Homo sapiens: one gene and its partner. The protein of the gene in region 1 purifies or fractionates together with the protein of each later gene. This does not show direct contact. Each region holds a gene or a part of one and is shown in the gene's direction. Other genes may lie near its edges.

Region 1 (3,824 bases):
CCACCACGCCCAGCTAATTTTGTGTTTTTAGTAGAGATGGGGTTTCCCCATGTTGGCTAGGCTGGTCTTGAACTCCTGATCTCAGGTGATCTGCCCGCCTCAGCCTCCCAAAGTGCTGGTATTACAGGACTGAGCCACTGTGCCCGGCCGATATTTATAATTTTACTTTGCAAAGTTGGGATTTTGTTGGAAGTGCTGTATTTGATCCCACTCTTTTTGCATAATTATGAGGTGACTGATAAAGTTTTTTTTAACATGCACCCACCACTTATTGTAGCTGTTAATGTTTTCTGGGTTTACATTCATATGTAGATAGTCTTCTACCTTCAAACTTGATGGTTTCTTTTTTTTTTTGGAGACAGAGTCTCGCTGTGTTGCCCAGGCTGGAGTGCAGTGGTGCGATCTCGGCTCACTGCAAGCTCCGCCTCCCAGGTTCACACCATTCTCCCGCCTCAGCCTCCCGAGTAGCTGGGACTACAGGCACCCATCACCACGCCCGGCTAATTTTTTTGTATTTTTAGTAGAGACGGGGTTTCACCATGTTAGTCAGGATGGTCTCGATCTCCTGACCTCGTGATCCACCCGCCTTGGCCTCCCAAAGTGCTGGGATTACAGGCGTGAGCCACCGTACCCGGCCTGATGGTTTCTTCAGAGGTGTTAATGTTGAATGTGTGAAAGTCACTTAATGAGCTTTTGCATTAAGAGGTTTGGGTGTGTTTCTATTCCCAAAAGGACAAAAGTAATGAAAAAAAATCCCTAATTTCATCTCTGTTAGATGGCATCATTGACAATATATTTCTGTCATTTTCAACATTTTCTTTAACTTTGACCTTTTCTTTTTACAATTACTTTCACAGATAACGTCTGTCCAAATGGTGGTTGAGTCACTGTTTTCCTGCTGTATGATGGTGGCCATCTTTGCTTCCACTGCATTAACATTGAGGCCTGTGTTTCTTATCACTAGCACTGGCACTTTTATTTTCCTGTTCATCTTTATAAAGATGTGGGCACAATGCAGTAAAGTGCCCTATAATTGTTCTGTCAAGGTGGTGTTTTGGTTGATGTTGGCTAAATACGGTAGTACCCCTTTACTTGCAGTTTTGCTTTCTGTGGTTTCAGTTACCTGAGGTCTATTGGGGTATGAAAATATTAAGTGGAAAATTCCAGAAATAAACAATTCACAGGTTTAAATTATGCCCTGTTCTGAATAGTGTGATGAAACCTCACTCCATCCCACCGGGATGTGAATCAATTCTGGCCAGCATCTCCATGCTGTCTAGCTGTCTACCTATGCTCCTCACCCCTTAGTCACTTAGGAGCCATCTCGGTTATCAGATCCACTGTCGCAGAATTGCAGTCTTTGTGTTCAAGTCGTTCAAGTCACCTATATTTGACTTAGTGGCCCCAAAGCGCAAGAGTAGTGATGTTGGCATAGTGTCATAAGAGTTTGATTTTATTATTTCTTATTGTTGTTAATCTCTTAACTGTGCCTAATTTAGAAATTAAACTTCATCATGAGGCCAGGCAAGGTGGCTCATGCCTGTAATCCCAGCACTTTCAGAGGCTGAGGTGGGTGGATCACTTGAGCCCAGGAGTTAGAGACCAGCCTGGGCAACATGGAGAAACCCTGTCTCTACAAAAAACAAAAATTAGCCAGGGCATGGTGGTGTGTGTGCCTATATAGTCCCAGCTACTTGGGAGGCTGAGGTGGGAGGATCACCTGAGCCCAGGGAGGTCGAGGCTGCAGTGAGCCATGGTTGTGTCACTGCACTCCAGCCTGGGTGACAGAGTGAGACCCTGTCTTAAACAACAAAACTTTCTCATAGGTATGTATATACAGGAAAAAACACAGTATATATGGGGTTGGGTACTATCCACACTTTCAGGCATCCACTGGGGATCTTGGAACACATCCTCCTTGGGTAAGGAGGGACTACTCTGTATAGCTCACTGGTGAGCTGATACAGGAAGGGTGGCTTAGGAGTGTCTTTGTGTAGTGTAGCTAAATTCAGGTTGTCAGGTAATCCTCTGTCACTTACCTTGAACAGTATGGAGAGTGAAGGTTGCACTCTTAGTTGGAGAGTTGCTTGATGGTTGCTCATTCAAATATGTTTTCTTGGGCAGCTCTGTAGCTGACCTGTCCAGCTGACAAATAGCTTTGGACTGCAGCAAGTCTGACTTTGTAGGCACGGTTGAGGAGAGGCCAGTCTGTAGGCGTGGAAGGCAGCCTCTGACTCATCTCTCTGTGCTAATTAAATAAAAGGTAACACCCCCTTCCCCATTGCTTGCTTTCCGCCCTCGTTTTCTGTATAGAGGCTGTAGATTTCCCACAGATACTGAGTATCTGGGAGTGACTATGAGACACGGAAGCTTTACTTTCCAGTTTTCCAGGTATTTTAATGTAGTCACCAGTTAGAGCCTCAGAAAGGGCACTGCAGTAATTATGGCATTGTCTACTTTTATTTCAGAGCAGTATGTGGCCAGATCATCTGTGATAACTTGATGTTAAAAAGGAAGTCTTCATATAAGCTGATATGTCTACAGAACTAGCCATTGGATGTAATTCTTTGACCAAGCTATTTTTAGTACTTTAAGTGGCCATACCTGCCTAATTGTAAAGACCCAGTGTTTTCTTAGTGTTCTGAGTCAAGCCGCATTGTTGGTGAATTTTACATATTGCTGTTTGCAGTTGAATTTAGGGTTATGATTGGATCCTGAGAACAGTATCAATCAAGTTACCTCTCTAAATCACTGTGATTGTTCCCAAATATTAGGCATCCCAAGTAGCCCAGAGTAAACCTTTGCTGCCCTGCTTAAAATGTATTTTAAAACATTTACAGTGAGAATATCCCCATATTCTTCTAGCTTATATATTAATGATATTTCAAAACATTTTAGAACTTAATCTGAGAGTCAGTATAGGGCAGTAGGAAATTCAAATACTGAGTTGGTGTGATTACACAGAACATCTGTTTGAATTTTAAAGGGAAGCAGGATTTTACTTTTGGCTTTTCTTCCGTAGTTTGCCTTGTGAGATTAAAATTGCTGATGTTTAAGGAAAGCAGCTGTTGTGGAAAGACTTAGTGGGTTTTTATCAGAGAGTAAATTTTGAAACAATTTGTGGGTTTTTGAAGTAAGGTTACAGTATATAGTGATTAGACAGCATTTTCACTCTCTCATGAAAACTGTGTAGTCAAAACAAAAGTAGGAAAAACACATGCATAACCCCTTAAATCTTATTTATGAAAAGATAACTAGCGAAGATGGGAAAATCAGACTTGTGTTTAAGTATCATTTTTTTATAAACTAGCTAAGTGCATTTTGAAACAAAATTCATGAGGTCTTTGTGGAATGCCTTTTCCATTTTTTTGTTTTGTTTTGTTTTGTTTTTGCACTCACATTATGTCTCAGCAATTTAATGGAGGGCTGATTTCCTAATGCTTTGATCCTTGGTGAGTGTGGTTCACCCCAACTAGGGAGGAATTCAGTCTTTTGTTCTTGATTCCATGCTCATTGATCTCCTCCACTGCCATTCTCAGAAACAATGGCAGTATTTTGTTTCCATAGTAATGAAACTGTTTGCTCTAATAGGATTCTATAGTGGTAATTTTTCTTTAGCTTTGCTAGCCTTATCCCTAAGGACTCTAGGACTTTGTTGGACTTATTTTGTTAGCTGTTACTCTTTTTTTTTTTTTTTTTTTTTTAAAGAGCTGACAATCCCTAAAGTAAAATGTCAATTGATAAATATTCTCTGGGGCCAGGTGTGGTGGCTCACACCTGTAATCCCAGCATTTTTTGGGGCTGAGGCGGGTGGATCACCTGAG
Region 2 (3,824 bases), on another chromosome or scaffold:
CTTAATTTCCATTCTTTTCCTCAGAAGCCTTCTGTCTTGCATAAATGAAATGGAAAGAATACTTCTAGAAAATGATTCAAGAACGGCTTTGTGGAAGAGAGAGAGAAGAGCAGAGCTGTGACTCTCAAATTTTAAAGGCTTAAATGTCATTAAAGTGAAGGTTTCAAGCCTCTGCCCCCCAGAGATTGTCCCTAGATTCAGTAATTCTTGAGTGGGACTTAGGAGTCTGCATTTTCTAAACTTCTCAAGCGTGTTTGTAACAGGTAGATTAGAGAGACTTTACTTTGAAAAAAAAAAAGAACTAAATGAAAGTTTCTCTTCTTACTCTTTCTACCCTTTCCACCTTGTGGTAAGGTAATGTTCTTTCACTCACCAACTTGATTACTGATTTTAAGTCCACTTTGCTTCCTTAGAATTTATGGATTTCATTTTAACTCTTCCCCACCCCTTCTTCCAGCCCCCCAGACACCTACTTTTGGAAGCCTCCATCATTTCCACTAAATAATAAAGTAAACCAGTGTTCTTCATAAGGTAGCTGTTCCCTTTAGCCAGGGGGATCAGCCATTCCTTATTTAACACCTAAGTGGGACTTACCTCAAGTAAAAAGATGAATAACACAAACCCTACAGACTAGGAGAAAGGTAACCACTGATTGCATTTCTGGTAGAATTATGGAGAGTGAATAATATAATGGGCATTCTTTGAAGCTTGCCCTTGAAACTCTTCCTGCCAACTCTCTGTTTCCCATATTGTACACTGCTGGGCTTCCATTGCATAAATCTTCCTAGGATATGACCTTCAAGATGGCCTTATATTTTTTCTCCTAATCCAGAAGGTATTTTGAGTGACTAGTAATGTGTAGCATTGAGGTGTCAACCCAGCTACCTTCAGCAGATGTTATAACATACAGAATCAGCTGAGAAGGACCCGAAGTTTCCACTTCTTTTGCCAGGTCTACTTTCGGGTTTGTTCTTTCTCAGCCACCACAGCTATTCCAGCAGCTCATTTCTTCACTTCACATCTGTTCTCCTAGTCAATGCCCTAACTCCTCACTTGTGGTTCCCTGATTCTTCCGGTCCTGTGGGCCTGTTGCTTCTGGTCTAATCCAAAACAAACAACAGGAATAAATCACTTCAACAGTACAACTTGTAGGGATCCTGTAAACTGTTATACTACATGTAAAATACTCTGCTTGATGTTTGCAGCCCTTTATAACCTGGCACTGCTCTACAAATTTAAAAATGTATTTCTTATTCAACCTTAGCTTCAGTTTATCTTTTCACTGACTCATGGCTTACTAGATTCAAATTCCTTCAAATTCCCCTTTTTTGAGTCGTCAGTTGCTTCTTCTCTTAACTGTCACTTTGTGTGTGTTTCTAGGTGAGCATTATTACATTGTGTTGTAATAATTTGTCTTGCTTTGTTTAGTCTTGGTCTGTATGATCAGCTAGACAGAGTTCCTCAGAGTTGTCAACCATATGTTAAATATCTTTGTGTCCCAGACATAAATGCCCACACCTAACAAGGGTATAATCAGTGCTTATTGACAGATGAATGAAAGGAGTGATGGGAACGTTGTTATGCCTGATTCACTGATAATGTAAACACCTCTTTTCATGCTGGATGCCAAACAGGCCTTTGATCAACACTCTTTTGGCTTCGACTAACTTTCTCTCTTTTAAAAAATCTTCACATTTTTTTAAGGTACTGCTAGTTGAACAGCTCTTCCGCAAGGAGTTCCAACCATTTTTGAAGAAATGGTATCGTGTTATTGGATTAAGTGGTGATACCCAACTGAAAATATCATTTCCAGAAGTTGTCAAGTCCTGTGATATTATTATCAGTACAGCTCAAATCCTTGAAAACTCCCTCTTAAACTTGGAAAATGGAGAAGATGCTGGTGTTCAATTGTCAGGTCAGTTTAAGTGTTTATTTTTTTAAAAAAATTAATAGTAATATTGATGATAACAAAGGCTGTATTTGTTAATTTTTTAAATGTTCGTGGCTTAAATTGTCTTTTATTGCTTATGGTTTTATTAAAATCCTTCTACTTCCTGGAGGAAACAAAAAAAGTAAGTTTTTAATTAGACCACTTTATTCTGCATAAGAATACCATTATTAAGGCAAGCACTCGCTGGACTTTCCATTTATTCTGACAAGTTCCTTTATTTGCTATTGAATGTTGTTAGATCTGCTTCCCTTTCCCATAGAATAAAAATACAAATCTTGTCTTTTATGGGGTATAGGATGAGAAGGTAGGAGAAAGAATGGAAAAAAATAAAAATAATTTATAATAACTAAATGCAATGTTAAAACAAGGCAAAATTTTCCCTCTTTAAATAGTGTGTTTTTCACTTGATGTAATAAAAATAAAATTCACCAACCTAAAATTAAATATTTTATTAAAGAACAAAAGTAAAATCCTGAGATTTGTTTTGTAATAAGCCAGGGTGTGAATTCCACATCTAACGCTTTTTAGCTCTGTAAACTTTCTGAATCTTATCTATTAAAGAAGGAGAATGTCTAACAGGGAGTTTCATGATTAGTATATACGAACGTCTGTGTGTACAGGTGCTAGTATAGTTAGATTTCCCTCCTAAAAACTGAAAGTGGACTGCTCTTGTGTCGTGCCCAAGAGAAGGCATCCCCAAGGCAGCTCAATTACTGGTCTAAAGCTATTTTCTCACTGTAGTGTGCTGATATGGAGAAATGAACTCTTTGAATTTTCTTTTAAGACTTTTCCCTCATTATCATTGATGAATGTCATCACACCAACAAAGAAGCAGTGTATAATAACATCATGAGGCATTATTTGATGCAGAAGTTGAAAAACAATAGACTCAAGAAAGAAAACAAACCAGTGATTCCCCTTCCTCAGATACTGGGACTAACAGCTTCACCTGGTGTTGGAGGGGCCACGAAGCAAGCCAAAGCTGAAGAACACATTTTAAAAGTAAGTCATAATTTTATGTATAACCAATGAAAGCAAAGCTAAAACAAATGCCAGGACTTCTTGGTCTTATTAAATAAGATTGAGTTCAAGTGCTGTGATCATCAGTTAAGTGAAATCTGTTTGCTTTAGTACAATAAATATACTCAGTCTTCTACAGAATACTAATATGCCTTAATAAATATCAATAACACAAAATCATATCATAAAAATGATGGAGAGTGATATAATTAATGGGAAGTTGAGATAAATAGAATGCCTTCTTTTGAACATCTACTCTTATGGTTAAATTTAATGATCTACCTGATATAGAAATATGCATAAACTATGAAAGTTTCTAGTTGTCACACATAATAAAGTCTTACTCCATGAGTTTCAAAACTGCGTATTTTCTGTCCTTCATATGTTATTCTAGGAATCTAGGTAATTCAAATTAAAGGGAAATAGGGATATGAAGATCTTTAAAGATGAGCTTGTCAGCTGCCCCCTAATGGTAACACCACATACAGTGCTACTGTTAATCTTGAGTGTTAAGTAAATCAGAGTAGCCCAAGAAGTATTTTGGTACCAAGGCAATTGCATTTGAATTTTAAGTCCCTTACTTTAAGTTGAATTCAATACAAATTATGTAGAGTAGACACAACATTCAGAGATGCAATTATAGGCTCCAAAATATAATTTATTACTGGGATTAAGGACTAATTCCAATCTAATAATCAAGGAACATGACTAAGGATGCTCCCAGCTTTATGTGTAGATGCCTGCTTTATGTGTAGAAGAAGGTGGTAGTATGATCCACGGATGTCAAGTTGACCTTTGATATGCCTCATGTAACATGGTTATCTCAAAATCATTCTCTGTCAATGATGGTAAA

What was found.
Region 2: the proteins of SERINC5 (region 1) and IFIH1 purify together in Homo sapiens (affinity purification with western blotting, with the first as the bait; one study listed by BioGRID). This does not show direct contact.

The regions. Positions count from the first base shown.
Region 1 is NC_000005.10:80,245,846-80,249,669, reverse strand, and holds part of SERINC5 (serine incorporator 5), read left to right. Parts: intron 1-3,824.
Region 2 is NC_000002.12:162,280,457-162,284,280, reverse strand, and holds part of IFIH1 (interferon-induced helicase C domain-containing protein 1), read left to right. Parts: intron 1-1,704; coding exon 1,705-1,915; intron 1,916-2,735; coding exon 2,736-2,953; intron 2,954-3,824.